Linked DNA regions of Homo sapiens. The protein of the gene in region 1 purifies or fractionates together with the protein of each later gene. This does not show direct contact. Each region holds a gene or a part of one and is shown in the gene's direction. Other genes may lie near its edges.

Region 1 (7,329 bases):
TTAACTTCCTACCTACCTTTGCTACAGAAAATCCCTGTGATCTCTGACCTATGTTCATTTTCTAGGATTCCTTCCAGGTGATACAGCCAGGCATCACCGAGCTGTTATCCTAGACCTGCTGCAGGAGGCACTAACAGAGTCTGGATTAACCTCCCAGGATATCGACTGCATTGCATACACCAAGGGTATGGCTGGGAGAGTGGTCAACGATGGAGGAATATACCTGCAACCTGGCTAGGTCAAAATAGCCAACACCTTACCTCTGCCACCATCACTACCCCTACCCCACCTCACATCCCTTATGTCCCCCACTATTGTTTTTTTCCAATCTCTAGGATTATAACTTCCATTTCTATCTCCCTAGGCCCTGGCATGGGTGCCCCACTGGTTTCTGTGGCTGTTGTGGCCCGTACTGTGGCCCAACTGTGGAATAAGCCATTGGTGGGTGTGAACCACTGTATAGGCCACATTGAGATGGGCCGCCTCATCACTGGAGCCACCAGCCCAACCGTGTTGTATGTGAGTGGAGGAAATACGCAGGTATTTAGAGGGCTCTACCCACTCCATCTCAATTTCTGAGGCACTGAACCAGTATTTTCTTTGTTCTATCTGAGTCATGGGAATGTCAGGAACAAAGATGGACTTATCTGAACCTAAAATACTGTAGACCAGAAAACCCCCAACAGAGTTTGTAACATTGCAAATTTTGGCAGCATGATCAGAACATTAGATGGCTTATCATTATCAGACTTTATATCTGATTATAAAGATTAGGAATTTCTACTTCAGGAAAGGAATGAATGGGATTGAAAAGGATTGAAATCTTCAAAATAATGAATATCTGAAAGCTCTTGCATTATTTTGAAGCTTATTTTTTCTATAAATCTTAGCAATTGAAACTAACAGTTGCTGGGTATGGCAACTCATGCCTGTAATTCCAGCACTTTGGGAGGTCGAGGCGGGTGGATCATCTGAGGTCAGGAGTTTGAGCCCAGCCTGGCCAACGTGGCAAAACCCCATCTGTACTAAAAATAACAAAAATTAATTTGATGTGGTGGCAGGTGCCTGTAATCCTAGCAACTCCGGAGGCTGGGCAGGAGAATCACTTGAACCCAGGAGGCGGAAGTTGCGGTGAACCGAGATCGCACCATTGCATTCCAGCCTGGGCAACAAGAGCAAAACTCCGTCTCAAACAAACAAACAAACAAAAAACAAAAAAAAACAACTAAAGGACACTACCTGATTTATTATTTTGGGGCAAGTACATGTTTTGTTTTTATATTACTGGGAATGATTATGTAGACTTTGTTATTCTAAGAGTTTAGAAATATAAATAACTTTAAAAAATACTTTGTAAATTATAGAAGGTATTTTATTTTATCTTATTTATTTATTTATTTATTTGAGATGGAGTTTCGCTCTTATTGTCCAGGTTGGAGTGCAATGATGCAACCTTGGCTCATTGCAACCTCTGCCTCCCGGGTCCAAACTATTCTTCTCTACTCCCGAGTAGCTGGGATTACAGGCACCCGCCACCATACCTGGCTAATTTTTTGTGTTTTTAGTAGAGACGGGATTTCACCCTGTTGGTCAGGCTGGTCTTGAACTCCTGACCTCAGGTGATCCACCTGCCTCGGCCTCCCTAAGTGCTGGGATTACAGGCGTGAGCCACCATGCCCGGCCAGAAGGTATTTTAAATTTATAGGTGAAGCTAAAGTTGTTTGGGTTACCTTATATGACCTTTTTAAGGTTGGGATTGGATTCTTTTCCAACAGAACACTTGATTATCATTAGAAATAGTTCAGCATTGTCCCCAGCTCATGAAAGGGTTGTGTCGAGAAGATGAGGCACATGTTTCCCATGAAAATGATGCAGAAACTTCAGCAGGTAGAGGGCAAGTAGTTGGTTGAGGCCTGAAGGATGACATACAAGGTCAGAGACTTGGGTTGTGGAAAGTATAATGGAGGCTACAAGAGTTGATGAAAGGAGCAGTGACGGTTTTGTCTTCCTCTTCTCTTTTAATGTTTGCTTAGGTGTAAGAAACAGGGAGGGTGATTAGGTGGAGAGGAGTGGATAGCAGAAGCAGAAAGGCAGGATTTTTCCTTCGCCTTTGTTACTGTCTTTTTGACAGCAGATTAAGATCTGTATCAGAAAGGGAAGAAATCCCTAACAGCACTGGGAAGGGAAAGGGACTTCTTAAGGTTCGTAGGAAGCCCTCGGTGTTATAAGTCTGCAGAATATGTGTCAGTAAGGGACAGATATTCTCTGTGCTAAAAGTTGGTCACATATGAAGAACGGCCTTAATACAAAAAAGTGGTGGTGGGTGCCTGTAATTCCAGCTGCTTGGGAGGCTGAGGCAGGAGAATTGCTTGAACCTGGGAGGCAGAGGTTGCAGTGAGCTGAGATCACGCCATTGCACTCCAGCCTAGGCGACAGAACAAGACTCTGTCTCAGAAAAAAAAAAAAAAGAAAAGAAAAATGGCCTTAAGTGAATTGCCATTGCTGACTTGGCTGGGCCATTAGTCTGACTCCATATGAGATTTTTGAGTTCTTCAGCTCTGCTTCTTGGTTCTAAATACCACTGCCCAGCTGCATACGGTGGTTCACACCTATAATCCCAGCACTTTGAGAGGCTGAGGCAGGTAGATTGCTTGAGACCAGGAGTTTGAGACCAGGCTGGGCAACATAGTGAGACCCCCATCTCTACAAAAATATAAAAATAAGCCACACATGGTAGCCCAGCTACTCAGGAAGCTGAGGTGGGAGGATCCTTTGAGCCTAGGAGGTGGAGGCTACAGTGAGCTATGATCACACCACTCCACTCCAGCCTGGGAGACAGAGCGAGACCCTGTCTCAAAAAAAAATTACCACTGCCACTGTGTCATAATTTAGAAGGATTCATGTTCTCTGCCTCCAAGCAGAAAAGCCGGTTACCTACTATCAAGACTGCATTTAAGGGATATATTAGGAACTTCTAAGCCGGAAAACCAATGTATTTGAAATGACAATTTATTTCTGCCTGAACCTACACTGTCTAGGAATCTGTTCCTGGAATCCTCAGGGTATACAGATTTCTTCTCAAATCAGAGCTGTAAAAACTACCCATTCACCATTTGGGAAACACCTTTCTTCCACTTCTTATTGGAAGCCCTGGTGGTCATGTTGATCCTCTGCTATGTTTTTCTCCCAAAGCCAAATAATCCTCTTTACAGACTTGGGGTTTCATGGACTTCCTCATCACCCTTAGGTGATTGCATACTCGGAACATCGTTACCGTATCTTTGGGGAAACCATCGATATTGCAGTGGGTAATTGTCTGGATCGTTTTGCTCGAGTGCTGAAGGTAAGCCAGTGGGGCTGCAGAGAACATAAAATGTGGGTGAATTTTTGGGAAGCCATGGAGGTGGAGGGAGGAAATAGTAAATGAGCTTCTTATGCTTCCTGCATATCTGATTTCATCCTCTTCCATTCCCTCCTTCCTTATTTTTTTCTTCTGCTAGATTTCTAACGACCCAAGTCCAGGATACAACATTGAACAGATGGCAAAGCGGTAAGGGGACATAAGGTGGAAGCAGGCTGGCTGCTGGGGCTTCAGGGATTTCCCCATATACGGTATATATTAACAAAATTTGGGACGGGCTTTGGAGGGTGAGAAGCCAGCTGACTGTAGGCTTAGTGCCTCGTACGCTTATTCCCACATAGAGGCAAGAAGCTAGTTGAGCTGCCATACACTGTAAAGGGGATGGACGTCTCATTCTCAGGGATCCTGTCTTTCATTGAGGTGAGTGTGAGAGGTGATGAGACGGGCACTTTCATGCTTTTTAAATGAAGCATATCTGTTTTACTTACGATTATATTTCGTATAGCTCAGTATATTCATGTAGCACAGTACTGGTCCATATCATGTGCTGGGTAAATTCATTTAGAAGGTATTCATTGAATATCTCTGTGTGCCACATGCTGTTCTAGATAGTAGAGATGCAGCATGGAGCAAAACAAAAATCCCTGTCTACATGGAGCTTAGATTCTAAATGGGGGGCGGGGGAGATAAGAAAGAGGAAAATAATGAAGTGCCAGATGATGATGAGTACAGGTGAAAAATTAAGCAGGATAAGTAAGGGGTGAGAGATGTCAGGACAAGTATTCAAAAAGTAATGATTGCATCTTAAATGAAAGCTGCTCATTCTATGCCATGATGCCAGTGAAGGGAATGTGGTACAGGATGTGCTGGTAACTTGAATTGTGGTGAAACATGATGACCCTCCGAATGCATTAATTTTTGCTCTCGTGTAATCCCAAAACCATGATTTGTTGATTCTTTTGTTTTTCCCTTTAATTGTAGGATGTAGCCCATCGGATGCTGGCCACAGGCGAGTGTACTCCTGAGGATCTGTGTTTCTCCCTGCAGGTAATGCAGTAAAAAACTGGGACAGAAAGTTGGGGCTGAAGGTTTTATATTGTAGAGCAGAACTAATCTGGGATGCCCCTCTAATATTTTCTCCTTATCTGTCCCTGACAGGAAACTGTGTTTGCAATGCTGGTAGAGATCACAGAGCGAGCCATGGCACATTGTGGCTCCCAGGAGGCCCTCATTGTGGGAGGAGTGGGGTGTATGTATTATTGAAAAGTGTTCCTCTTTCCTATTCTTAACACTATGCGTCTTCCTCCTGGTACTCTAAATCATTAAGCGTTTGGAGTAGGCTTCCCAATCCTTGCCCCTAATCCCCTATGTCATTGTTCTAAGTGAGTGCACATGACGTGTTCTGCTGGACCATGAAGAGATGGCTAAAACTAAGCTAATCCTGTTCCCTGCCTCTTTGTAGGTAATGTGAGGCTACAGGAGATGATGGCAACAATGTGCCAGGAACGTGGAGCCCGGCTTTTTGCTACAGATGAGAGGTAAAGACACTTTCCCTTTGGTTTCTTTTTTACTTCTCCTGTTATAGTGATTTTCCACCCTTAGATCCCAATTTTCATCTCTCTTGCATCCCAGATTCTGTATTGACAATGGAGCGATGATAGCCCAGGCTGGCTGGGAGATGTTTCGGGCTGGACACAGGACCCCACTCAGTGATTCTGGGGTTACACAGAGGTGAGTGATTCACCTCTTGGTGAGGGTAGATTATTGGGACATAGACAAAAACAGCAGGGAAGAGTCCAGGAACATGAGGGCAGAGAAGAATGAAGGATGTTAAGGGCTCGCTCTCCACCATGTTTCTTCTGTTTTTCCACAGGTATCGGACAGATGAAGTAGAGGTGACCTGGAGGGACTAATAAGATCAACAGAATCAGAGTAGATAGTTCCTTAATCGGAACCCAAAGGACCCCGTGCCTCAATCTCTATCCTGATGTCATGGGAGTCCTAGCAAAGCTATAGACTCCAAGCAAGGCTTGGGGTCCTTTATGGAACCCCAGGATGACTCAGCAATAAAATATTTTTGGTTTTTTGGTTTTGTATGTTGGTGATTGGATTGTGTTGTTCAGGACCAATGTAGATTTGGTGCTGGATAAATTCTTGTTGGAGCTTGCTGCTGTGGAACCAAGAATGAGGTATCTTTTTTTTTTTTTTTAAGAAACGGAATCTTGCTGTGTTTCCCAGGCTGGTCTCGAACTGGGCTCAAGCAGTCTTACCACCTCAGCCTCCTGAGTAAGGATGCCATTGTGCCTGGCAACAATAGTAGTATCATAACTATTATTATAGCATCGGGTCCCGTGCTAACTGCTTTACATTCATTCTCTCATTTAAATTCTTTGAAGTAGGTGTGCAAGACTTCTCTCAAAATAGCCTGGAGGCTCACACCTGTTATCCCAGTGCTGTGGGAGGCCAAGTCAGGAGGATCCCTTGAGCCCAGGAGTTTGAGCCCAGCCTGGGCAAATAGCAAGACACCATCTATTTGAAAAATGTAAAAATTATCTGGGCATGGTGGCGCACATCTGTAGTCCCAGCTCCAAGGGAGGCTGAGGCGGGAAGATAGCTTGAGCCCAGGAGTTTGAGGTTGCAGTGAGCTGTGATTGAGCCACTGCATTCCAGCCTGAGTGACAGAACAAAACCTTGTCTCTTAAAAACAAACAAACAAACAGCCTGGAGATTGGTCTAACTTGTAACTCTAAAACTGCCTCTACTCCGTATACTTTCTCCTACATGCACATCCATCGGCAGGCTTGAGGAATGCCCGCAGATGCACATCCCTCCGTACCACAAACAACAGAACGAATCTCATACCCTTAATCTTATTGATGTTGATATCAATCATCACAATTAGTCCTAAACTACTGAGTCATCTCATCTTTTACACTTAATAACCATGTATCTCCACTCTGTTTTGTCTCCATCTACCTACCTTTTCCAACTCTAGAAGCTCTTCCACTGTGCCCTCTGGAACTGATGGCCAGTCATTTGTCAAATTCTCTGTGTCCTCAACCTCTTCTCTGAACGTTCCCTTCACATTTATGCTCTTCAGACTTGGTTTCTTATGAGGACTCTGCTTCTCCTACCACCTCAGTAGTGGTGGCATTTTCCCTTCCACACCCAGTGTCCCACTGGGCCTGGAGGTGGTGCACGTGTCCTCATACTGTTTCCAGACCATTATCCCTCATCCCTAGTACCCTTCTGCTTTGAAAGAAACTACCATACGAACACCACGTTTGTCATAAATCTTATTTCAGTATTCAGGTAGATCATACTAACACCCGCTTCAGCCACTTATTTCCTTGGTCATGTTCTGGAGCTGCAGATCCTCCACATCTCAGTTTCAGACGTCCCACTCTCGACTACCACCACCTCCTGTTCTTCCAGTTCATTTTCTTTAGTATGCTAAATCCAACAGTTCATCCCTTCACCAGGACCTACGGTCCATTGATCATACTTCCTTTCTGCAGATTTTATCCCCCACGTATTTTTATTTCCCTCCTTCAGCTAAATTCCCATAATCCACCTCATTTCCCTTCCCCTCTTTTGCTTTTGTCATATTCAACTCATCACCTACTTTAGACCCATGCAGCTGAAAGGGCTAGTAAAAAATAGCCATGCTGACTGATCTTACTTCAAACTTACGACCATGACACTAAAATGGGTCCTTTATGCCACCCAGAAATATGCCATCTCTCTAGTCCTTTCACTTGCCCTCTTTTCTAGTGACTGTTTCATACCTTCTGACCCCTCAAATCTCTTAACATCTCCCCCTATTCTGACTCTTACCTTAGTTCCTATTTCAGTAAGAAAATAGAAACAATCAGTATACATTTACAAGCTTTTGCCCCTGAAACTAACCATCTTCCAGTATCTGTACCCATGTACTCTGCCTTCCTCCTGTTACCATAAACCAGTGG
Region 2 (9,072 bases), on another chromosome or scaffold:
GTACTTGAAAAATGCATTTATTGCAAAAGCAGATGCATATGTAATTCTCACAAAATTTGCTGGTATAATGACAAGTGTGGCCAGGCGAGGTGGTTCACACTTTGGGAGGCCAAGGCAGGAGGCAGGAGGATCACTTGAAGTCAGGAATTTGACCCCACCCTGGGCAACATAGCAAGACCCTGTTTCTTAAAAAATAATAATAATTAGTTTGGTGTGGTGCTGTGCACCTGTAGTCCCAGCTAGTTGGGAGGCTGAGGCAGGAGGATCGCTTGAGCCTAGGTTGAGGCTGCAGTGAGCTATGATTTATGCCACTGCACTCCAGCCTGGGTGACAGCAAGACCCTGTCTTTTAAATAAGTGTGTTGTCACTGTGAATTTTGTGTTTATGTGGTGTTAGTACTGAATTTTAAGCATTTTTTTCAGTATTTCCCTATCAATATCTATATGATCTGTGGCAGGGTCCCTTTTTATTACCAATATTGGTAATTTGTGTTTTCTTTTTTTTCCTTGATTAGTCTTTCTAAAGGGTTAGAAATTGAGTTAATTTTTTAAAGAGCCAATTTTTTACATTATTTTCTCCATTGTTTTCTGGTTTTTTGTTTGGTTTTGGTTTTGGATTTTTTTTTTTTTTTTTTCTTTTTGAGACGGAATCTGGCTCTGTTGCCCAGGCTGGAGTGCAATGGTGCGATCTCGGCTCACTGCAACCTCCACCTCCCGGGTTCAAGTGATTCTCCTGCCTCAGCCTCCCGAGTAGCTGTGATTACAGGCATGCGCCACCATGTCTGGCTAATTTGTTTTGTATTTTTAGTAGAGACGGGGTTTCACCATGTTGGCCAGGGTGGTCTCAAACTCCTGACCTTGTGATCCGCCCACCGGGGCCTCCCAAAGTGCTGGGATTACAGGCATGAGCCACCGTGCCCGGTTTGTTTTGTTTTATTGGTTTCTGCTCTGAAGTATTTCCTTTCTGTTACTTATTTAATTTCCTCCTTTCCCCCAGCTTTGTAACACTTTTCCTCCAATGTAAATGTAAATATTTAAATTTTCCTCTAAGTGCTGCTTTAGCTGTAGCCCACCGTGGAAACTAAAGCCAATTTTGAGCATTTTAAACAACTTGTAATATATAAAGGAAGTATCATAAAACTGCTGGGATATTGTTTTATGAGACATTGTTTTATAATGTAAAATCATGTCCATAATCTCACTGCAAATTGTTCATTTTGTTTCACTCCAGTTTTGTTTTTTTTTTTTTTTTATCGCTGAGCTCTTTTTTAAAAAAATTATAAAAATAGAGGTGGGGGTCTCACTGTGTTGCCCAGGCTGGTCTTGAACGCCTGGCCTCAATCAGTCCTCCCACCTCAGCCTCCCAGACTGCTGGGATTACAGGCATGAGCCACCATGACCAGCCACTGAGCTATGTTTGAGAGCAACTACTTAAAAGTGCTCCAGTAGCCAACTGAAGAAACGTTAATACAATGACATGACATTTTTCCCCCCTAGAAACGGGTCTCACTATGTGGCCCAGGCTGACCTCGAACTCCTGGGCTCAAGCACTTTTCCTGCCCAAGCCTCCTGGAGTAGCTGGGACTATAGACATGCAACACCATGCCCCGCTTAAAATGACATATCTGGCCGGACACGGTGGCTCACACCTGTAATCCCAGCACTTTGGGATGCCAAGGCGGGCGGATCACGAGGTCAGTTCGAGACCAGCCTGGCCAACATAGTGAAACCCCGTGTCTACTAAAAATACAAAAATTAGCTGGGTATGGTGGCATGTGCCTGTAGTCCCAGCTACTCGGGAGGCTGAGGCGGGAGAATCGCTTGAACCCAGGAGGCGGTGGTTGCAGTGAGCTGAGACCGCACTGTTGTACTCCAGGCTGGGCGACAGAGCAAGACTCTGTCTCAAGAAAAAAAAAAAAAATGACAACGCATCTTGTCTTACATTGGTGGAACTTTTTAAAATGTTGTAAATGTTGTAAATGTTTAAAATCCAATGTTGGTATTATTGAGAGGAAAACATGATTTGACAACATGTATTAAGAGGCTTAGACCGGGTGCAGTGGCTCACGCCCCTAATCCCAACATTTTGCCAGGCTGAGGTGGGAGGATTGCTTAACCCAGGAGTTCAAGACCAGCCTGGGAAACATGGCGAAACCCGTCTCTACAAAAAATTAGCCGGACGTGGTGATGCGCACCTGTAGTCCCAGCTACTCGGGAGGCTGAGGTGGGTGGATCCCTTGACCCCAGGAGGCGGAGGTTGCAGTGGGCTGAGATCACGCCACTGCACTCCCGAGTGACAGAGTGAGACCCTGTCTCAAAAAATAAAAAGGCCTTAAAAGTGTTTATTCTCTTATACCTAGTAATATGATGCTGAGCAGTTTTAAACACATAAAGTGCACGAAAGATTTATGTATGAGGATATTATTATTTTTTTTTTTTTTTGAGACGGAGTCTCGCTCCGTCGCCCAGGATGGAGTGCAATGGCGCGATCTCGGCTCACTGTAAGCTCCGCCTCCTGGGTTCACACCATTCTGCTTCAGCCTCCCGAGTAGCTGGGACTCTAGGTGCCCGCCACCATGCCCGGCTAATTTTTTTGTATTCTTAGTACAGACGGGGTTTCACCGTGTTAGCCAGGATGGTCTCGATCTCCTGACCTTGTGATCCGCCTGCCTCGGCCTCCCAAAGTGCTGGGATTACAGGCGTGAGCCACCGCGCCCGGCCGAGGATATTCTTTAAAACAAGGAAATGGTCACTTAAAGTGAAAAAGGCAATTTACAAAGTACATTTTTTTTTTTCTTTTTTGAGACAGTATTGCTCTGTCATGCAGGCTGGAGTGCAGTGGTGCGATCTCGGCTCACTGCAAACTCCATCTCCCAGGTTCAAGCGATTCTCCTACCTCAGCCTCCTAGGAGCTGGGATTACAGGCGCTAGCCACCACGCACGGCTAATTTTTGTCTTTTTAGTAGAGATGGGGTTTCACCATGTTATCCAGGCGGGTCTCAAACTCCTGAACTCAAGTAAGCCACCTCCATCGGCCTCCCCAAATGCTCGGATTACAGGCGTGAGCCACCACACCCTACCAAATACTATATTTCAGAAGAATTCAGGGAGTGGAAATGCACATACCAAAGAGGGCAGTTGTGGATCCAATAGCCCTGCCTCCAATTCTCACAATTTCCAGATTCAATCTTAATTCCCATTCCCTCATCCCAAGAGAAGTAGAGAAAGACCAGTAGAGCTGGAATAATGACAGGTGGAAATAACTCAGAAGCCACTCAAGGCAAAAAGCATGCAGAGGGGCCTAAGGGAGCCAATAGGATTCCAATTCTGGTTACAGAAAAATCCAAGTCAAAATCACTCTTTGACAATCTAAAGGAATGAGATATTAATTATGTTCCCCTGGGGTTGTGAAAAACAGCCCTGCCTTTTGGAGATTAGAAGTGAAGCAGGTAAGAACCATATCTAAAGCAGGAGAAGAAGCTTCCCTCAGTAGGTGGTTGATAGGGGTCTGGGAATCATCCAAGTTAATCAGGGTGACTATAGATAATCCGAGTGTGTTATATCCTGACAGAAAACAAAGGGTGGATGTGCATTGGCAAAAACAAAATAAGAAACCAATTTGCAGGCATGAGTGGACCAGTACCCAGGACTCTCTTCCAGTAGCCTACAGTAGATAGAGGGCTCTGACTTATCGGAGAAGTCCTGCTTGGCTGGAGAAGGGCATCAAGCTGTTTATCAGCGCCTCATGCCCTTAACAGTTAAGACCATCCAACTAACCTGGCTGTTACTCCATGAATCTCGTGCAGCTTTCTGAAAATCATGGGGTCTCTGCGGACTTTCCTGCAGAAAGAGAGCCCACTGATTCCACTACCTAGATAAAGGCGTGGTGGTGGGCCCCTGTAATCCCAACTACTCGGTGTAAGAATTAAAGAAAGAGGAAAGAAACACGAAAAGTGGCTTGGTGGTCATAAGAGGTTTATTTTAGAGAAAACCTGAGAGGGGCGTCTGGCCAAGTTAGGTCAGAGGCACACTCTCTTACAGACTAAGTAAGTTTTTAAGGATTCGGAGTGGGAGAGTTTATCAGAGGCTTGGACTGCTTCTGTGTCTCTTTGTTGTGCTTATCTCGGAGGGAGAGTTGTGTGTCTGTTCCCATACATCTTTCTGCAGCTGCAGACATACCCCCTGAGTCTAATTTTTGTATTTTTAGTAGAGAGGGGTTTCACCATGTTGGCCAGGCTGGTCTCGAACTCCTGACCTCAGGTGATCCTCCCGCCTCGGTCTCCCAAATTTCTGGGATTACAGGCGTGAGCCATCTGCGCCCTGCCTAAACTGTTCGGGTTCTAACATTCCAGCATCCTCCTGCGGAACGCAGCCAGGCCTTACTCAGGCCTTCCAATCAGGACCCTTACAGTTCCTGGGGCTGGGATTGCGAGTCTCTCTGGGGCCACGCTTTCTAAGCGTATCACTTCCAGGATACGTGCCTCCAACAGAAGGAATGAAGGCTAGGAAACAAAAACGTGGATGCGGGTGAGGAGCTGTCAGTGTTACCGCCACGACAACGTGGACCCTGCGAAACTCGGAGGTGCCACTCAAGAGCCGAAAGCCTGCCCACTCGGGGTGGGGCGGCAACCCGGAGAGCCAATCAGGAATAAGGAGTCCGGTTCATGAAAAGGTAGCCGGATTCTGACTGGGATACTCACTGTGAGAAGGCTGGGCGGAGTTGCAGAAAGTCAACAGAAGCCGAATCTCTGAATTTCTGTTCGCAGCCTCCTAGGCGGGGCCGGGAAAAAAATCCAGTAGTCTGCGCTGACTGGGCGGCGAGGGACCGGGAGGAGCCAATCAGAAGTCAGGACTCGCGGGGCTTGGAGGAGGGGCGCGGGCGCTGCGGCCCCTGCTCTACCTCCTAGCGCCGGTGCGCGGCCGAGGCCGCACTACCTGTCTGCGGGAAAGCGGGATCCACCCCAGGACGTCGGGTCGCTGCCGGTGAGCCAAGGAGGGGGAAGCAGAGACGAGCCCTGCGTCCCCGCTGCGGGAGTCGGGGTCGCCCCCGAGGGCAGGGAGGCTCGCTGCAAGTGTGGAGCCGGGAGTCCTATGCCTCAGGCTCCTCCAGCCCGCGCTATCCTCAGCTCGCTGCGTGCGTGATGGGCAAGTCACCCTTCTTCCCGGACCTCACCTGTAACCTAGGAGGGCTGAGCTGGGCCCCCAGAATGAAAGCGTGGCACCCGAGAAGCTGTCGAGGCCAGCCCTCCCGGGTCTGTGTGGGGTCGCTGGCCGAGGGCTGTGCCGGCGCCTGGCCGGTGTCTACTGGGAGCAGTCTCTGAGCTCCGCTGAACCTCACTTACTCATGCGCCCTCCTCCTCTCTTTTCCTGCCTCTTGGTTCAGCAGCCCCTCTGCAGCCCGCTCACCCACCACTTTTTCCCCTTCACCCACCAGGAAGACCCTTAAAAGCACCTAGTAATGCACTGTTGTCTTTGAAAAACTGCAGATGCTAGATTCCCCACCTTTCTGTTTCATGATCCCCTTGGGGTTGAACTGCCCCGTGAGTCTGTGGAATGAAGGTCACCCTTGGTTCACCATTTAATATTAAATAAGGGACTAGCCTAGGGGCTGAGAATACAGAGATTGACTGGGTATAATCCCTTGGAAGGACGCAGCAAAAGGGAATGTAGGAGAAGAAAGGTAGAGTTGGAAGACATGCTAAGGTAGAATTTACTAGACTTTGTTACACGTTGGGAGTGAGGGACAGGAAAGAATCAAGAATGACTCCTGTTTCTTGTCTGGTATACTTTGCACAAAGTACAGAGCTTAAGTTCCAGCCCCCTCCCGGCTGCAGGACAAAGGTGGTGAGATTCTGACGCAGATCTTGGAGTTGGAAATCACACTTGCTTCCTGCGGGCTTTTTCAGGAGCTAAATACTGTTGGCCGGATATATAGACCAACAGCCTATAGTACCTGAATTCCTCCTCTCCCTTTCAATGAAGTAGGAAAAAAAGTTAATAATTTTTAAAAATGTGTGAGTGGGCAACATAGCGAGACACTGTCTCTAAAAAAATAAAAATAATAAAATCAAAAAGACAGCCATGATGGCTTGCACCTGTAATCCCAGCACTTTGGGAGACCAAGGTAGGAGGATTGCTTGAGCCCAGAAGTTCGAGACCAGCCTGGGCAACATAGTGGGACCCTCTCTCTCCAAAAAAAAAAAAAAAAAAAAGGCCAGGCATGGTGGCACCTGCCTGCAGTCCCAGCTATTTGGGAAGCTCAGGTGGGAGGATCCCTTGAGCCCAGGAGTTGGAAGCTGCAGTAAGCAGTGATTGTGCCACTGTACTCCAGACTGGGTGACAGAGACCTTGTCTCAAAAACAAAAAAAAAAAAATTCCCCTCCATACAAAGGAGACATTTGGTTAAGACAGACATGTCTGATAAACATATTTTTTTCTTTGTTTTTATTTACTCTCAAGAGTTGACTTGATCTGTGCCATTAGTTCTATGATATGGAGCGCTTATATAAAGAAAAAAGGCGAACTTAAAGAACTTTAGTGGCATGGAATACTAGAGCTAGAGGAGACTTTTAGTAATAATCTAATCCAACTCTGTTTTAGAGGAGACATGACTAGTCCAGAGTTTCAGAGGTTAGGTAGCAGAACTGGGACTAAAATATGTCCTATTTCTCCCAGCACAGCCTTTTATTACATCAGTCTATTTGGATGGCCAGAGCTAACAACCTTGCTTTACATGGCTATGGAAAACAGCGCTCTCCTAAGAGGAGCTTAACAAGTCAAAGATTGTATGGGAACATCTGGAATAGAAAGGAGATTGGCCTTCACCAGTTGCCTCTAAGGTTCCTTACAACTTTAAGAACTTATCATTCATTTCAAATTCAGAATTGTTCTGACATCGTTAACGCTTTGGGAGTTGAAAATGACTCCAGGATTTCATCTTGGAGTTAATGCTTCAGTCCATATTGCATTTTGAATACTTACCTTATACCAGTTTACATATCTCCAGAAAGAATGTTAAAATTCCTTGTAAAGTTTTAAGCCTAAATACAGTGTGACAGGATATGTTGGTTCCCAGAAGTTTCAAGTGCAAAGATTGTTTTGAAACTCCATTTAGGCTTTGTCACAGTACCTTCAGTGAACAAAATCTGAACGGCTTAACTTGCTTCTGAAAGCAAATGCCTGGTTAGAAAGTAAACAGGAAACATGATTGTCAAGAAGGCATTAACTTGCAGTAACAGGTGATGGAAACCGATCAGTGGCACAAGCTATGCAAGTTAAGAGGCTGGAGCAATCACTTTGGGTAGGAGGATCAGGGAAGGCCATGGCAGGGGCTAGGGGGTGGTTAGCGTTTGAGGGTTACCTCTCCCTTATTTTCTCTTCTCTTTTTTTTTCTTTCTTTCTTTTCTTTCTTTCTCTCTCTCTCTTTCTTCTTTCTTTTCTTTCTTTCTTTCTTTCTTCTTTCTCTTGCTCTCTCTTCTCTCTTTTCTTTCTTTTCTTTACTTTTCTTTCTTTTTGATGGAATTTTGGTCTTTCGCCCAGGTTGGAGTGAAGTGACGCAGTCTCATCTCACTGCAACCTCCACCCCTCTGGGTTCCAGTGATTCTCCTGCCGCAGCCTCCTGAGTAGCTGGAATTATAGGCGCCGGCCACCATGCCCGGCTAATTTTTTTTTTATTTTTATTTTTATTTTTAGTAGAGATGGGGTTTCGCCATGTTGGCCAGGCTGGTCTCAAACTCCTGACCTCAGGTGATCCACCCACCTCAGCCTCCCAAAGTGGTGGGATTACAGGCGTGAACCACTGTCTTTACCTACCCTTATTTTAACTTGAGTCATCAGGCCATAGTCCTAGGACTGAGGCAGGGAGGGGGTCATATAGGAGATTTCTGGTATATCTCCCTGAATGTTATCCCCTTTCCCTCACTGGAGTTAGGTGGGTTTTTGCTATGATACAGCCAAATAAATTAGGCATTAACAGGCATATGGTCTGATTTTTAGAGTTCCAAGAAAGTCCTAAGATCCACCTCCTCTGTCCTAGCCAATTTCTCAGAAGCGCTCTTTCTTTTTTAGAGGTAAATTTTACATTCAGTGATATTCACAGATCTTACTAGTTTACTTAGGTTTTAAGTTAAGTTTTGACAAATGTAAGCCATGTCGCCAAAGCCTAATCAAGATGTAGAACACTTGCCTCTCAGAAAGTTCTCTCATGCCCCTTCCCTGTCAGAAGCAATACATCTTCCACTTTCCACAAAAGCTAACTCTTCATGAGATTCTTTTTTTTTTTTTTTTTTTTTTTTTTAAATAGAGAAGCGGGTCTCATTATGTTGCCCAGACTAGTCTCGAACTCCTAGCCTTGAGTGTTCTCCCACCTTGGCTTCCCAAAGTGCTGGCTGGGATTACAGGTATGAGCCACTGTGCCCAGCCCATAAGATTATTTTTATATAGTACTGTATCCCCTGAACAGCAATCAAAACATACCCTAAAATGCAGCTCACCCTCACGATGTTATCAATTATTTACAACTTAGTATGAAAGAAGGATTAGAATAAAACTATTTTGGGAAAACAGCATGAGATTCTAACGACCTTAAATATTTGGTTCCTGAAGCATGTTCAGAAGACCTACATTGTCTTTCATATGTAGCTGGATGCTCAGAAAATATACCAGGTGTGGGTAGCAGAGGGTGGAATTACCAAGAGAAAGAAAACAGTCTCCTCCCCCGCCCATGTATCCAAATCATACTTAAAAATTCAAGGCCCAGCGTGGTGGCTCATGCCTGTAATCCCAGCACTTTGGGATTACAAAGCAGAGGCAGGCAGATCACTTAAGCCCAGAAATTCAAGACCAGCCTGGCCAACATGGTGAAAGCCTGTCTCTGCAAAAAATACAAAAAATTAGCCTGATATGGTGGCTTCTGTAGTCCCAGCCACCTAGGAGGCTGAGGTTCAGGATCATTGAGCCTGGTGGTTGAGGCTGCAGTGAGTTGTAGTCATGCTATTGCACTCCAGCCTGGGCGACAGAGCAAGACCCTGTCTGAAAAAAATAAAAAAAAAAAAATCAATTCAGGCCAGGTCCA
Region 3 (7,166 bases), on another chromosome or scaffold:
GGCTAGTGATATTGAACATCTTATGATGTGCTTATTTACCATTCTTATACTCTCTTTCACTGAAATGTCCGTTTAAGATTTGCCCATTTTCTTTTTCTTTTCTTTTTTTTTTTTTTTTGAGACAGTCTTGCTCTGTCGCCCAGGCTGGAGTACAATAGTGTGATCCTGGCTCACTGCAACCTCTGCCTTCCAAGTTTAAGCGATTTTCAAGTCTCAGCTTCCCGAGTAGATGGGATTAACAGGCGCCCGCCACCACGCCCAGCTAATTTTTGTATTTTTAGTGGAGACGGGGTTTCACCGTGTTGGCCAGGCTGGTCTCAAACTCCCAACTTCAGGTGATCCACCCACCTCAGCTTCCCAAAGTGCTGGGATTACAGGCAAGAGCCACCGCTTGCTTGCTTGCTTGCTTCCTTCCTTCCCTCCCTCCTTCCTTCCTTTTTTCTGTTTTTTCTTTCTCTCTTTCTCTCCTCTCTTCCTTCCTTCCTTCCCTTTTTCTTCCTTTCCTTCCTCTCTCTTTCTTTCTCAGACCCTCACTTTGTCACCCAGGCTGGAGTGCAGTGGTATGATCACAGTTCATTGCAGTGCTGTCCTCCTGGGCTCAAGCAATCCTCCTACCCCAGCCTCCTGAGTAGCTAGGACTGTAGGCACAGACCACCAGGCCTGGCTAATTTTTAAATTTTTTGTAGAGACAGGATCTCACCATGTTGCCCAGGCTGGATTTGCCCATTTTCTAATTGGGTTGTTCGGTTTCTACCTCTCGAGCTTAGAGAGTGCTTTATATATGCTGGAAACAAGTCCTTTGTTGGATATATGATTTGCAAATATTTTCTTCCAGTCTGTGGCTACTCTTTTCATCTTATTAATGTGATCTTTCACACAGCAAATGTTTAAACATTTTGATGAAGTCCAATTTATCATTTTTTTTTTTTGAGACGGAGTTTTACTCTTGGTGCCCAAGCTGGAGTGCAATGGCGCAATCTCAGCTCACTGCAACCTCCGCCTCCCGGATTCAAGCGATTCTCCTGCCTCAGCCTCCTGAGTAGCTGGGATAACAGGCGCATGCCACCACGCCCGGCTAATTTTTTGTATTTTTAGTAGAGACGGGGTTTCACCATGTTGGCCAGGCTGGTCTTGAACTCCTAACCTCAGGTGATCCACCCACCTCAGCTTCCCAAAGTGCTGGGATTACAGGCATAAGCCACCGTGCCCAGCCCAATTGTTTTTCTTTTATGGATTGTGCTTTTGGAGTCATGTCTAAGAACTCTTCGCCTTTAGCTGGGCATGGTGGCATGTGCCTGTAATCCCAGCTACTCAGGAGGCTAAGGCAGGAGAATCTCTTAAACCCGGGAGGCAGAGGTTGAAGTGAGCCGAGATCGCGCCACTGCACTCCAGCTTGGGCGACAGAGTGAGACTCCATCTCAAAAAAACAAACAAACAAAAAAACAAAACTCTTCACCTGACCCTACACCATGAAGTTTTTTCCTAAATCTACTATCCATTTTGTATTAACTTTTTGCATAGGGCTGAGGCTCATTTCTTTGCCTATTTGTCCAATTGTTTCACCACCACTTGAAAGGATCATCCTTTCCCCATTGAAACGCTTTTATACCTTTGTCAAAAACAAGTTGTTTGGCAGTGGCTCACGCCTGTAATCTCAGCACTTTGAGGGAGCTGAGGCAGGAGGATTGCTTGAGTCTAGGAGTTCGAGATCAGCCTGGTCAACGTAGTAAGACCTCGTCTCTACAAAAAATAAAACAAAATTAGCCGGGTATGGTGGCGCGTGCTGATAGTCCCAACTACTTGGGAGGCTGAGGCGGGAAGATGACTTGAGCCCATGAGGTTGAGGCTGCAGTGAGCCAAGATTGTGCCACTGCACTCCAAGCCTGGGTGACAAAGTGAGACACTGTCTTATAAACAAACAAAAAATTATTTTTTAAAGAGAGATAGTTGGCTGCACTTGTGTGAATCTATTTCTGAGCTCTCAATTCCATCTTATTGATTTTTGTGTCTATCCCACTGGGGAAACCATACTTTCTTGATAACTTTATTTATATAGTAAGTCTTAAAATCAGGTAGTGTGATTCCAACAACTTTTTCAAAGTGGTTTTAACTATTCTACTTCTTTTGCCTTTCCATATAAAGTTTAGAATAAACATCTATATTTAATACAAAAAAACTGCTGGGATTTTTGTAGGAATTGCATTACGCCTATAGATCAATTTGGGTTTTTGTTGTTGTTGTTTGAGACGGAGTTCGCTCTGTTGCCTAGGCTGGAATGCAGTGGTGTGATCTTAGCTCACTGCAACCTCTGCCTCCTGGGTTCCACCTATTCTCCTGCCTCAGTCTCCTGAGTAGCTGGGATTAGTACCAGGCACGTGCCACCACACCCGGCTAATTTTGTATTTTTAGCAGAGACGGGGTTTCACCATGTTGGCCAGGCTGGTCTTGAAATCCTGACCTCAAGTGATCTGCCCACCTTGGCCTCCAAAGTGCTGGGATTAAAGGCGTGAGCCACCATGCTTGGCCCCTATAGATTAATTTGAAGAGAATTGGTATCTTTACTATAATATGTTGGATCTTCCAATTCAATCCCAATCTTGTGGTTAATGAAAGAATCTGAAGTAAAGGAAAGAACTATGGGATTGAAATGGGGTGCTGGGAGCAAATTTCTCTAGAATCTGAACTCTCTTCAACCTTTGATCAAATGGGGTCAGACTCCATCCTAGGGAACTGAGAAGGGCCTGGGAGACATAAATATGCCAACTCACCTGTGTAGGTTTACAGTTTACAACATTACCTTGGGTTTCACAACTCAACTGCAAGAAAGGAATTAGCATCCCCATTTTTTTTAAACCAGTGTTTTCATATCCTTTATTCCCAAGTCAGTGTATTTGTCAGTTTGAATGTTACATGTATGATAAAACAGATTATGAAAAGCATACTAACGAGAACATTATTTTATATAACTGATCATTGAATATGCAACCTCTTGCAACAATAACTTAATGGACCCAACTCTACCTTCTAAATGGACCAATTTTATGATTCTCCTAAAATGTTTTGAGTTGGGTATAGTTTCTTGTTGCTTCTTCCTGTGATCCAAAGCTTAAAAATGAGGCTGGGCACAATAGCTCAAGCCTGTCATCCCAGCACTTTAGGAGGCCAAGGTAGGAGGATCACTTGAGATCAGGAGTTTGAGACCAGCCTGGCCAACATGGTGAAACCCCATCTCTACTGAAAATACAAAAATTAGCCGGGCGTGGTGGTGCACACCTGTAATCCCAGCTACTCAGGAGGCTGAGGCAGGAGAATCGCTTTAACCTCAGAGGCAGAGGTTGCGGTAAGCTGAGATCGTGCCTCTGCACTCCAGCCTGGGCAACGGAGCGAGACTCCGTCTCAAAAAAAAAAAAAGGAATGAATCTCTGGAAACTAGCAATTAGAGCCAGACCTCCCTAGGACCAAGGAGACAGGAGTTGGAGAAAAAGACACTACAGGTGATGCCCACAGTCTCAAGCACTGTGGCATATGCTTGACCTCAGAGCATTCCAGTACTCAAGGTCAAGTGTGGCACCATCCGTATATCCTGTCATCGCAAATGCCCGCAACTGCTACAATTAACAGGATATGGGAGAGAGGAGGCACATCATGTGAGGAGGAATGAATCGCTCCCAACAATTATGTGAACATTTCGAAAATTTCTTTTTTTTTTTTTTTGAGATGGAGTCTGGCTCTGTCCCCCAGGCTGGAGTGCAGTGGCGCGATCTTGGCTCTCTGCAAGCTCCGCCTCGTGGGTTCACGCCATTCTCCTGCCTCAGCCTCCCGAGTAGCTGGGACTACAGGCGCCTGCCACCATGCCCGGCTAATTTTTTGTATTTTTAGTAGAGGCGGGGTTTCACCGTGTTAGCCAGGATGGTCTCGATCTCCTGACCTCGTGATCCGCTCGTCTCAGCCTCCCAAAGTGCTGGGATTACAGGCGTGAGCCACCGCGCCCGGCCAACATATCGAAAATTTCAATACCAAGGATTAACTTCTAAAATACAACTTTATATGCTAGTGCATGCCCGTAGTCCAAGCTGTTCAGGTGGCTGGGGCGGGAGAATTGCTTGAGCCCAGGAGTTCAGGGCTGCAGTGAGCCGTGTTAACGCCACTGCACTCCAGCCTGGGTGACAGAGTAAGGCCCTGTCTCAAAAAAATGAAATAAACTGGCCGGGTGCGGTGGCGTGCGCCTGTAATTCCAGCTACTCAAGAGGCTGAGGCACAAGAATCGTTTGAACCCGGTAGGCAGAGGTTGTAGTGAGCTGAGATCACACCACTGCAGTCCAGCCTGGGCCACAGAGACCCTGTCTCAAAAATAAATGCATGCAAGTTTGTAGACAGAAGCTATACAGCTAGCCATTCAATAAAATGCATGTGCAATATGGTGGAGCTGTTGTGAACATCCCCATTTGAATGCTGGGCAAACAGAGTAGTTCAAGGTCCCCAGTGCAGCAGGTCCTACTCATTTCAGAAGGGAACTCTGCAGAAACTATGCCCATCTGGGCAGAGCCCCCACTCCACTGGCCTGAGAGCCACGAATCCGGCGCGCGTCCTCCCCACCTTGCCCGCCAGGGGGCGGCAAGTCCCTGATCCGGGGTCGCCTGCTGCAGAGCTGGTGGGAGATGGTTGAGGGGCGTGGGTGGGTCAGCGTTCCTTGGGGACCCGTGAAGCCTGGGCTTAGGGCTCACAGCGTGGGTCCCCAGCACAGACAGGAGGCGGACAGCTTCCCGTGAACTGCAGGGGAGTCCCGGGACGCTGTCCTCCAGCGAGGTGGGGACCGGCTATGTCCCTCAGTTCCCCCTCGGTCCTCGGGCCACAGGGACATTAGACTAGGGGGTCAGTTCTGCCAGCCCTGCCCAGGCCTCTTCTGACCAGAGGAGCTGCGACGGACGCGGAGTTCAGGCCCCTTGGCGACCGCGGTCTCCTGAACTCGGCCCCTTCCCTGCTCCCATGGGGAAGAACCCTGCCCCTAGAACAGCCTCCCCTCCAGGTGTCTTCCCTACGCTACCCCTCCGCCGGCCGGGAACTCCGCCAGGCCTAGAGACGCCGACCCGGCCCTTTCTAGCTCCTCCCCGGCTCGGACCTGGTTCCCGCCCTCGGCCGCCCGCCAGTTCCCGAGGCGTACACGTGTAGATCCCGTCACGCCCGGAAGTCTCGCGTTTCTCAAACGCCTCGCGCAGTCGCCCTTGCGCTCAGGGAAGGGGCGGGGCGAACGGAAGCCGGGAAGGCGATTCATAGCTCGCGGGGTACGGGCGCGCGTGCGCACTCCGCAGCCCGTTCAGGACCCCGGCGCGGGCAGGGCGCCCACGAGCTGGCTGGCTGCTTGCACCCACATCCTTCTTTCTCTGGGACCTGGGGTCGCGGTTACTTGGGCTGGCCGGCGAACCCTTGAGTGGCCTGGCGGGGAGCGGGCCTCGCGCGCCTGGAGGGCCCTGTGGAACGAAGAGAGTAAGCACGGGAGGGGCGGCGGAGGGGCGCGAGTTTGAGGGCGACGCGATGAATGAATCGGAACGGGGGGTGGGGAGACGCGGGATCTGGAGGTGAGTGGGAGAGGACGAGGGGCCGGAAGGAAACAGGGACATCGAGTGTGTCCCTTCTCGGGTGCACCCTTTATTTTTGTTTTTGTTTTTGTTTGAGACAGAGGCTTGCTCTGTTTCCCAAGCTAGAGTGCAGTGGCGGGCGCGATCACGGCTCACTGTAGCCTCGAACTCCCGATCTCAAGCGATCCTCCCCCCTCGGCCCGGGTAATTAAAAAAATTTTTCTTAAGACAGGGTCTTGCTATGTTGCCCAGGCTGATCTCAAACACCCGGGCTCCAGTGATCCTCCCGCCTCGACCTTCCAAAGTGCTGAGGTTACAGGCGTGAGCCACTGCCCGGCCAGGTGCACCCTTTGTACAGGAAAAGGGGTAGGAAAGGCTTCGAGGTCCCTCTGAGCCCTCTGATCGCGTCCCTTTCCCACGCCAGGGCACACAGCATGGCAGAAAACCGAGAGCCCCGCGGTGCTGTGGAGGCTGAACTGGATCCAGTGGAATACACCCTTAGGAAAAGGCTTCCCAGCCGCCTGCCCCGGAGACCCAATGACATTTATGTCAACATGAAGACGGACTTTAAGGCCCAGCTGGCCCGCTGCCAGAAGCTGCTGGACGGAGGGGCCCGGGGTCAGAACGCGTGCTCTGAGATCTACATTCACGGCTTGGGCCTGGCCATCAACCGCGCCATCAACATCGCGCTGCAGCTGCAGGCGGGCAGCTTCGGGTCCTTGCAGGTGGCTGCCAATACCTCCACCGTGGAGCTTGTTGATGAGCTGGAGCCAGAGACCGACACACGGGAGCCACTGACTCGGATCCGCAACAACTCAGCCATCCACATCCGAGTCTTCAGGGTCACACCCAAGTAATTGAAAAGACACTCCTCCACTTATCCCCTCCGTGATATGGCTCTTCGCATGCTGAGTACTGGACCTCGGACCAGAGCCATGTAAGAAAAGGCCTGTTCCCTGGAAGCCCAAAGGACTCTGCATTGAGGGTGGGGGTAATTGTCTCTTGGTGGGCCCAGTTAGTGGGCCTTCCTGAGTGTGTGTATGCGGTCTGTAACTATTGCCATATAAATAAAAAATCCTGTTGCACTAGTGTCCTGCCATCCCACTGCCACTGATTCTTTCCTGTGTAAATTCTGTGTGTGCCTGAATAGGGATGGTAGGAAACGCTACAGGTATCTAGGTGAAAGGGGAACCCAAGTGTTTCTTGCCTCTATAGAGAGCATAGATTATGCTATGAGCAGTGTAACAAAACAGTACAGTGCAGAAACCCAGTCATCCCAATGTTTGTTTGTTTGTTTGTTTTTTGAGACAGAGTCTCACTCTGTCACCCAGGCTGGAGTGCAGTGGTGCAATCTTGGCTCACTGCAAGCTCCACCTCCTGAGTTCACGCCATTCTCCTGCCTCAGCCTCCTGAGTAGCTGGGACTACAGGTGCCTGCCACCACACCCTGGCTAATTTTTTTGTATTTTTAGTAGAGACAGGGTTTCAGCGTGTTAGCAGGGATGTTCTCGATCTCCTGACCTTGTGATCCACCCATCTCGGCCTCCCAAAGTGCTAGGATTACAGGCGTGAGCCACCGTGCCCAGCCCCA
Region 4 (7,132 bases), on another chromosome or scaffold:
TTGCTTTTACCCAGGAGACAGAGGTTTCAGCGAGCCGAGATTGCACCATTGCACTCCAGCCTGGATAGCAAAAGCGAAACTCCGTCTCAAAAAAAAAAAAAAAGGGCGTGCTTTCCTCATTACAGTCAGTTGTAGGTTATGGTCAGCCAAAGACCATGCACTTGTAATCGGGGTTTATGTGTTTTTGCATTTTCCAAGTTTCCTGTTTTTGAGGGTTTGTCTGTGGCTCCAAAGTTCTTTTGCTTATTCATTTATTCAGAAATATTTACTGAATGCCTACCATGTGGTAGGCATTCTTCTAGGTGTTAGGACGTGTAACAGTGAGCAGAACGAAATGTCGAAACGCATAGAGCAAATATTCTAATAGTTAAAAAAATAGATAATGTATCAGTAAGAGTCCAATTAGAATGTCAGAAACTACCTTAGATGTAGAAGGAATTGGTCTCACATGTGTTAGAAGGGCTGGGAAAACAAAAGGTAATAGGAGGGGTGCTGGGAGAACAAATAGGAAGAAAAGGGAAAACCCAGAAATAGTAATTGTTAGTACCCCTGCTACTTGACTGTTGAAAATGCTGTAAAAGTTTGTTCTGAATTAGGAGAAAAGGCGCTCCCTCAACCAGGCTGAAACTACCACCAGTGTTGTTGCCAGAAACCTGGAGCAGGAAGGAGCTGCTTCTCCCTTCCGCCTTCCAGTCACCCACCATTAATACCTGCTATTGGCAAGGCCCATCTGGATGGCAGATGGCAAAGCAGCCTGGAAAGTGGAGTTTACCAACTTCTACCTCCTACAGTATATAGTGGAGCACAGCAAAGTGGAAAAGGAGGCCGGGCGCGGTGGCTCACACCTGTAATCCCAGCAATTTGGGAGGCCGAGGTGGGCAGATGACCTGAGGCCAGGAGTTCAAGACCAGCCTGGTCCAACATGGTGAAACCCTGTGTCTACTAAAAATACAAAAATTAGCTGAACGTGGTGGTGGGTGCCTGTAATCCCAGCTACTCTGGAGGCTGAGGCAGGAGAATTGCTTGAACCCGGGAGTTGGAGGTTGCAGTGAGCCAAGGTCACGCCACTGCACTCCAGCCTGGGCAACAGAGCAAGACTCCATCTCAAAAAAAAAGAAAAAGGAAAATAACATGGCCAAATACACTGCTAATTACCATGAAGAAGAATACAGCAGAGTAGGAGGATAAAGAATAAAGACAGGGGTGAGGGGAGCTACTCTAGTGAGAGTCAGAAGAGGCCACTTGGCAGAAGGAACATTTGAGCAGAGACTTAAGAGAAGTGAAGGCATAAGTGACATGAAAGCATTCCAGGCAGAGGAAACAGCAAATGCTGAGGGCCTGAGACAGGCAGAGAACTGCAAGGACACCACGGTTGGAGCTCAGGCAGCAGGGTACAGTGGTGGGAGATAAGGACTGGTGGCTGAGGAGCCCTGGGACTTTGTAGCCCATGATAAGGACTTTAGACTTATGGGAGGGGGAGGAGAAAAGTGGAAAACAGGGAGATGAGGAAGGAGTCTTATCACAGTGGCTTGAATAATGTGTTAATCTTTACAGCGTCCAAGAGCAATGTAAAATGTAGGGGCAGTAAAAGATAAACAGAAAAACTAAGGGGAAAAAAATTCTAAAACTTCTTCAGAAAAATTCTGGAGCGGAGAGCATGTGTGGAGCATGCATGCATGTCCATGCTATAACTTCATCTACAGAGAAACAAACAGTTTCATCTAAGGATTAACTAAGTATGTACTTCGTTTTTACTTCCTTCCTCCCCTAACCGCACAGTCTTGAACTTGCAAGTTTACTTTTAAGGAACCTTGGTTAGACTGGAAATAAAACTTTATTCTGTGTCTACTATTGCAAGGCACAGTATTAGACACTGTGAAAAAGTAAAACATATAAAATATGCATCCTGCTCTTAAGACATATTTAGTCATGGACAGAGGCATGGATAGTTCAATTAGGATATAAGAATTGTTATAAAGTAGTAAATTAATGGTACATACAAGTGCTGAGGGTTCAAGGAAAGAGAAAAACATGAAGTAGAGGTTGTCTTCAAAGTTTTCTTAGAGAAGGAAGTTCAGCCATATTTTAAAGGATCAGCAAGATTTTAAATGTACTAATCTTTAAGCTTCAAGACATAGGGACTTGGCACAGAGCACTTAGCACAGAGCCTGGCACATAGTAGGTACTCAGTCATTTGTTGAGTGAATTAAATTTGTACTTATTTGATATGACAGCAAGTTGAGAGGAAAGTAAGTTGCGAATAATGACTAAAATTGAAATATACTGCCTCTGCCTCACTTTATTCTATAGTAAGTACAGTGCGCTGTTAGAGATAAAACCTTATAATCTAGTAGTGTTCTAATCTGCTTGTAAGAACATTTATCTAAAAAGCATAAGAATGAAAGATTTGAGGTAAGGCGATTATATTTTAAGAAATATAGTAACAAATATATATTTAGAAATATATTTCTAGAAATGTTCATCTAGAAATATGTCTAGAAATTCTTTCTCATGATCATTTTATTTTGTTATTACCCAAGAGTTTATATTTCCATGTATTACCTACATTTTTGGTTTCTTTTTTTTCTTTCCTTATTCAACTTGTATGCTGGCCGTTTTGCTACCTTTCTGAGACTTTCCATTAAAAGATGAACAGAAAGTCAGTTGAAATCACCTGCTTTTCCTGAAGACTTCGAGTTTGGTATCCATATTATCCCATGGAAATTTGAATATTTAATATCACTGAATAAGCCTTTGGTCCAAAGTGGTGATGTATAATAATGGAATTATTAGCCTATTATTCTGAGAATTAAACACATTGATATCATCACCTTTCTAAATATCAGTAGAAGTTTGAATGTTTACTAATATAAAAATCATCTTGAAAGATTTCTTCCTTTTCTTTTTTTCTCCCAGGAGGAAGAAGCAGTACTTTTTTGTCTCATAGCATTAGTAACCAAGCTAATGTTCACCAGTCTGTCATTAGCTCCTGGCTCAGCACTGATCCTGCAAAAGACCGAATTGAAATCACAAGCTTACTTCCCAGTAGGTCTCTGTCTGTGAACACTTTGGATGTTTTAGGTCCTTGTCTTGTTTGTGGAACCGATGCAGAAGCAATTTATGTTACTAGACATCTTTTTTCGTAGAAGTACTATAATTATAAGATTTCAGATAGAACATGCAATTAGCCTTTTGAAATCCAACTTCTGTGCAAAATTTTAGTATCAGAAAATACGAGATTTGCAGGGGAAACATCAGTAAACTACCATTAATGTCAATGCCCAGTTTTGACTTTTGTTAGCCTGACACTCCCAAACAGTTGTAGAATCCGATAGATGACTGATGGCAAAAGATTGTGAACATGTGGAAGAAAATCAGTGGGATTCTGGTGCTGATGAATAGGTTGCCTTCAGAGTATTATTGACAGACAGCTTGTGGAACTAATTCTTTATTTTTGATGTTGTGGGAATTAACACATCAATGGTGGTTATGGGAACTACCAATGGGTTCCTACAATTTTTATCAGTAGTATGTGGCATATACACCTTCCTAGTGGCAGTTGCCAATGTTAATGATTATTCTTTTTATTGCAAGTATTTCCTATGATCCTTCCACACTTTATTTCCTTAATAATAATAAACTTTTTCAGAAAGAATTGAGTAGAGCAAAAATGACAAAGATGTGTAGCTGTGTTCAATTTTTTTTTTTTTTTTTTTTTGAGGCAGAGTCTTGCTCTGCTGGAGTGCGGTGGTGCAATCTCGGCTCACTGCAACCTCCACCTCCCAGGTTCAAGCAATTCTCCTGCCTCAGTCTCCTGAGTAGCTGGAACTACAGGTGTGCGCCACCACGCCCAGCTAATTTTTGTAATTTTAGTAGAGACAGAGTTTCACCATGTTGGCCAGGATGGTCTCGATCTCTTGACCTCATGATCCACCCGCCTCGACCTCCCAAAGTGCTGTGATTACAGGTGTGAGCCACTGCACCCGGCCTGAAATTTTTTTAAGGTGAAAATGTTTTGACAAGTTCCTTTTTCAGAATAGGTTTTTGAGCAGAACTCTTTCAGCTTGTTAGACCCAACTTTGCTTTTGTTTAGCTTCACAGCATAGCTGAAAGTTGCCAAACTGGACATTGTGCAATAAAGTAGAATTCTATATTGATAAGCAAACTATTTCCAAACTAAAAATGTGATAGATAAAAGTGTGATTAATCAAATGATATGATCAGAGTAAAGAATTTTGCCATTTTGATCCTTTTACTTTGTTTTAGCCACCTATAGTGTTACCAACCATCTTTATCCTTGTCTGCAGGGATAATAATGAACTAATGTAGTGTTTTAAGATAATTTAATGATACTATCTTTCCAAACTTTGTTAGATTTTAAATGTATTATTGACCTGAGACCTTAATGACAAATCACTGCTATTAGACAATTGAAGTGTTCATTTACTTTGTAATTCCAATAATCATAGTTATGGAATTATGGTAAGGTTTTGCTTTTCTGTCCTAATAAATATATATATTTTTTGAGATGGAGTTTTGCTCTTGTTGCTGAGGCTGGAGTGAAATGGCATGATCTCAGCTCACTGCAACCTCCGTCTCTTAGGTTCAAGCAATTCTCCTGCCTCAGCCTCCCGAGTAGCTGGGATTACAGGTGCTCACCACCACACCCAGCTAATTTTTGTATTTTTAGTAGAGATGGGGTTTCACTGTGTTGGCCAGGCTGGTCTTGAACTGACCTCATGATCCACCTGCCTCAGCCTCCCAAAATGCTGGGATTACAGGCTTGAGCCACTGCTCCCGGCTGATTTTTGTATTAGTAGAGACGACAGGGTTTCACCATGTTGGCCAGGGCTGGTCTCGAACTCCTGACCACAGGTAATCAGCCCGCCTCGGCCTCCCAAAGTGCTGGGATTACAGGCGTGAGCCACTTAGTATTTGTAACCATAAGAGAAAGTATATTTTAACAGCATTACATTTCATGCCAATTGACAAGTTTTGCCAATTTTAATAAGAAACTAAGCTTTATGTAATGTAACACCGTAATTTATGAATTTGTTCATTGTCACTGCCTTTATTCATGAAACTGTCAAATAGAGTGTCTTTCAAGGGTTGCAGGATCTTAGAGATAGAAAGTACCTTGGTGATCATCTCCAGCCTAAATTTCATCATCCCTTCTATGGTATTCCCAACAAATTATCATCCAACCTATACTTAAAAACATATGGTGGCCAGGCATGGTGGCTCACGCCTGTAATGCTAGCACTTTGGGAGGCCGAGGTGGGTGAAGCACCTGAGGTCAAGAGTTCGAGATCAGCCTGGCCAACATGGCGAAACCCCGTCTCCACTAAAAATGCAAAAAAAAAATTAACCGGGCGTGGTGGCAGGCATCTATAATCCCAGCTACTTGGGAGGCTGAGGCAGGAGAATTGCTCAAACCCGGGAGGCAGAGGTTGCAGTGACCCAAGATCGTGCCACTTCACTCCAGCCTGGGCAAAAGAGCAAAACGCCATCTCAAAAAATATACATATATAAGGAGATAAAGTTTCCCATTTTCCAATACAGTTTCACATTTGAACAGCCCTAATTGATACAACTTTATGGCAGGGTTTTAGTGTGTGAGTGGGATCCAAAACACTCAATCCTGTAAAAGGGTACAGTCCTATTGTATGTTAACACACTGATGATGTGAGCCTGTGAGATGAGCCAATCACCAGTTGTTATGTTCGAATCTGCTTTGTGTTGGGACGCTTTAATGTCAGGGTTTCACTAAATAAATGAATTTTCATATACTGAACTGAAATTTGCTTCTATCTGTCTTATCTCGGGAGCCACACACACAAAATTCCTCTCATCACATATTCAAATATTCAAAATTGATTATTATAGTCTCTCCAGTGAAGGTTTCCTTCTCTTTCTTTCCATTTTTGGCTAAATCCTTCTTATCCTTCAAGACTCCTTCTAGGTGTCATTTTCTCCAGACAGCTTTTATTGGCCTCCAGCAATCCGGACTAAATTGCACTCTGCTTCAAAAGCCCATTGTGCAGAACTTAAATTGTGCGCAAAGCAGTGTGTTAAGGAGCCTGTCTCCCCCTACTGGGCCACAAGATCAAGAACAGCGCCCATGTCTTCGTGTAACAGTGTTTAACAGTATCTGAACCATAGTAAGCAATGAGTCACTGTTAATTGACCTTGTTTTCACAATCTTGTTTTCCCTTTAAAAATTACTGCTCTTTGTCAAAGGCCTTTTTTTTTTTTTTTGAGACTTTAAGTCTCGCTCTGTCGCCCAGGCAGGAGTGCAATGGCACGATCTCAGCTCACTGCAACCTCTGCCTCCCAGGTTCAAGCAATTCTCCTGTTTCAGCCTCCCGAGTAGCAGGGATTACAGGTGTGCGCCCAGCTAATTTTTTGTATTTTTAGTAGAGACAGGGTTTCACCATGTTGGCCAGGCTGGTCTTGAACTCCTGACCTCAAGTGATCCACCCTCCTCCACCTCCGAAAGTGCTGGGATTATAGGCATGAGCCACCGTGCTCGGCCAGAGGCCTTCTTTTAAGTGTGACTTCCAAGATAAACACTTTTTCATATATTGTCTACCTTGGTGATTATGACAGAAATCTTGCCATCCTGTTAATAGGAATGATATTCCTTTGTAATGCTGTGTCAGCTTTCTGAAGTGTTCACATGTGATACTCCTAAGCCACACTTCCTATATTCGGAAGTTAATACAAATGGTTTTTAATCCTTAATATGGGCCTTTCTTGTTCTAAGAAAAATTTCATTTCAATATAGGAAAGGACTAACTATTTTCTTTGAATCTTTTGTAGAAGCTATTATTTTCTCCATAATTAGCCCAGCGTGCTCTCTCCACTTTCATCCCATTGATTAAGAAAGATGTTTGAGACAGGATTTCACTCTGTCACCCAGGCTGGAGTGCAGTGGTGTGATCCCCAGCTCACTACAGCCTCGATATCCTGGGCCCAAGTGATCCTTCCACCTCGGTCTCCCAAGTATCTGGGACTGCAGGCATGTACCACCAAGCCTGACTAATTTTTGCAATTTTTATTGAGATGGTGTTTCACTATATTGCCCAGGCTGGTCTTGAACTCCTGGGCTCAAGCAATCTACTTGCCTTGG

Evidence for each region.
Region 2: the proteins of OSGEP (region 1) and HYKK purify together in Homo sapiens (affinity purification with mass spectrometry; 3 studies listed by BioGRID and IntAct, with this or other methods). This does not show direct contact.
Region 3: the proteins of OSGEP (region 1) and POP7 purify together in Homo sapiens (affinity purification with mass spectrometry; 4 studies listed by BioGRID and IntAct, with this or other methods). This does not show direct contact.
Region 4: the proteins of OSGEP (region 1) and NUP43 purify together in Homo sapiens (affinity purification with mass spectrometry; 4 studies listed by BioGRID and IntAct, with this or other methods). This does not show direct contact.

Annotation. Positions count from the first base shown.
Region 1 is NC_000014.9:20,445,185-20,452,513, reverse strand, and holds the end of OSGEP (tRNA N6-adenosine threonylcarbamoyltransferase), read left to right. Parts: intron 1-65; coding exon 66-185; intron 186-364; coding exon 365-540; intron 541-3,247; coding exon 3,248-3,343; intron 3,344-3,500; coding exon 3,501-3,550; intron 3,551-3,702; coding exon 3,703-3,781; intron 3,782-4,342; coding exon 4,343-4,408; intron 4,409-4,519; coding exon 4,520-4,610; intron 4,611-4,823; coding exon 4,824-4,899; intron 4,900-4,993; coding exon 4,994-5,092; intron 5,093-5,234; coding exon 5,235-5,274; 3' UTR 5,275-6,113; downstream 6,114-7,329. UniProt on the Homo sapiens protein: Component of the EKC/KEOPS complex that is required for the formation of a threonylcarbamoyl group on adenosine at position 37 (t(6)A37) in tRNAs that read codons beginning with adenine.
Region 2 is NC_000015.10:78,502,690-78,511,761, forward strand, and holds the start of HYKK (hydroxylysine kinase), read left to right. Parts: upstream 1-4,887; 5' UTR 4,888-4,982; intron 4,983-9,072.
Region 3 is NC_000007.14:100,700,821-100,707,986, forward strand, and holds POP7 (ribonuclease P protein subunit p20), read left to right. Parts: upstream 1-5,300; 5' UTR 5,301-5,484; intron 5,485-6,000; 5' UTR 6,001-6,010; coding exon 6,011-6,433; 3' UTR 6,434-6,666; downstream 6,667-7,166. UniProt on the Homo sapiens protein: Component of ribonuclease P, a ribonucleoprotein complex that generates mature tRNA molecules by cleaving their 5'-ends. Also a component of the MRP ribonuclease complex, which cleaves pre-rRNA sequences.
Region 4 is NC_000006.12:149,722,983-149,730,114, reverse strand, and holds the end of NUP43 (nucleoporin Nup43), read left to right. Parts: exon of another isoform or gene 1-596; coding exon of another isoform or gene 597-625; exon of another isoform or gene 626-1,554; coding exon of another isoform or gene 1,555-1,595; exon of another isoform or gene 1,596-1,635; intron 1,636-1,636; coding exon of another isoform or gene 1,637-1,725; exon of another isoform or gene 1,726-2,916; coding exon 2,917-3,146; 3' UTR 3,147-5,800; downstream 5,801-7,132. UniProt on the Homo sapiens protein: Component of the Nup107-160 subcomplex of the nuclear pore complex (NPC). The Nup107-160 subcomplex is required for the assembly of a functional NPC.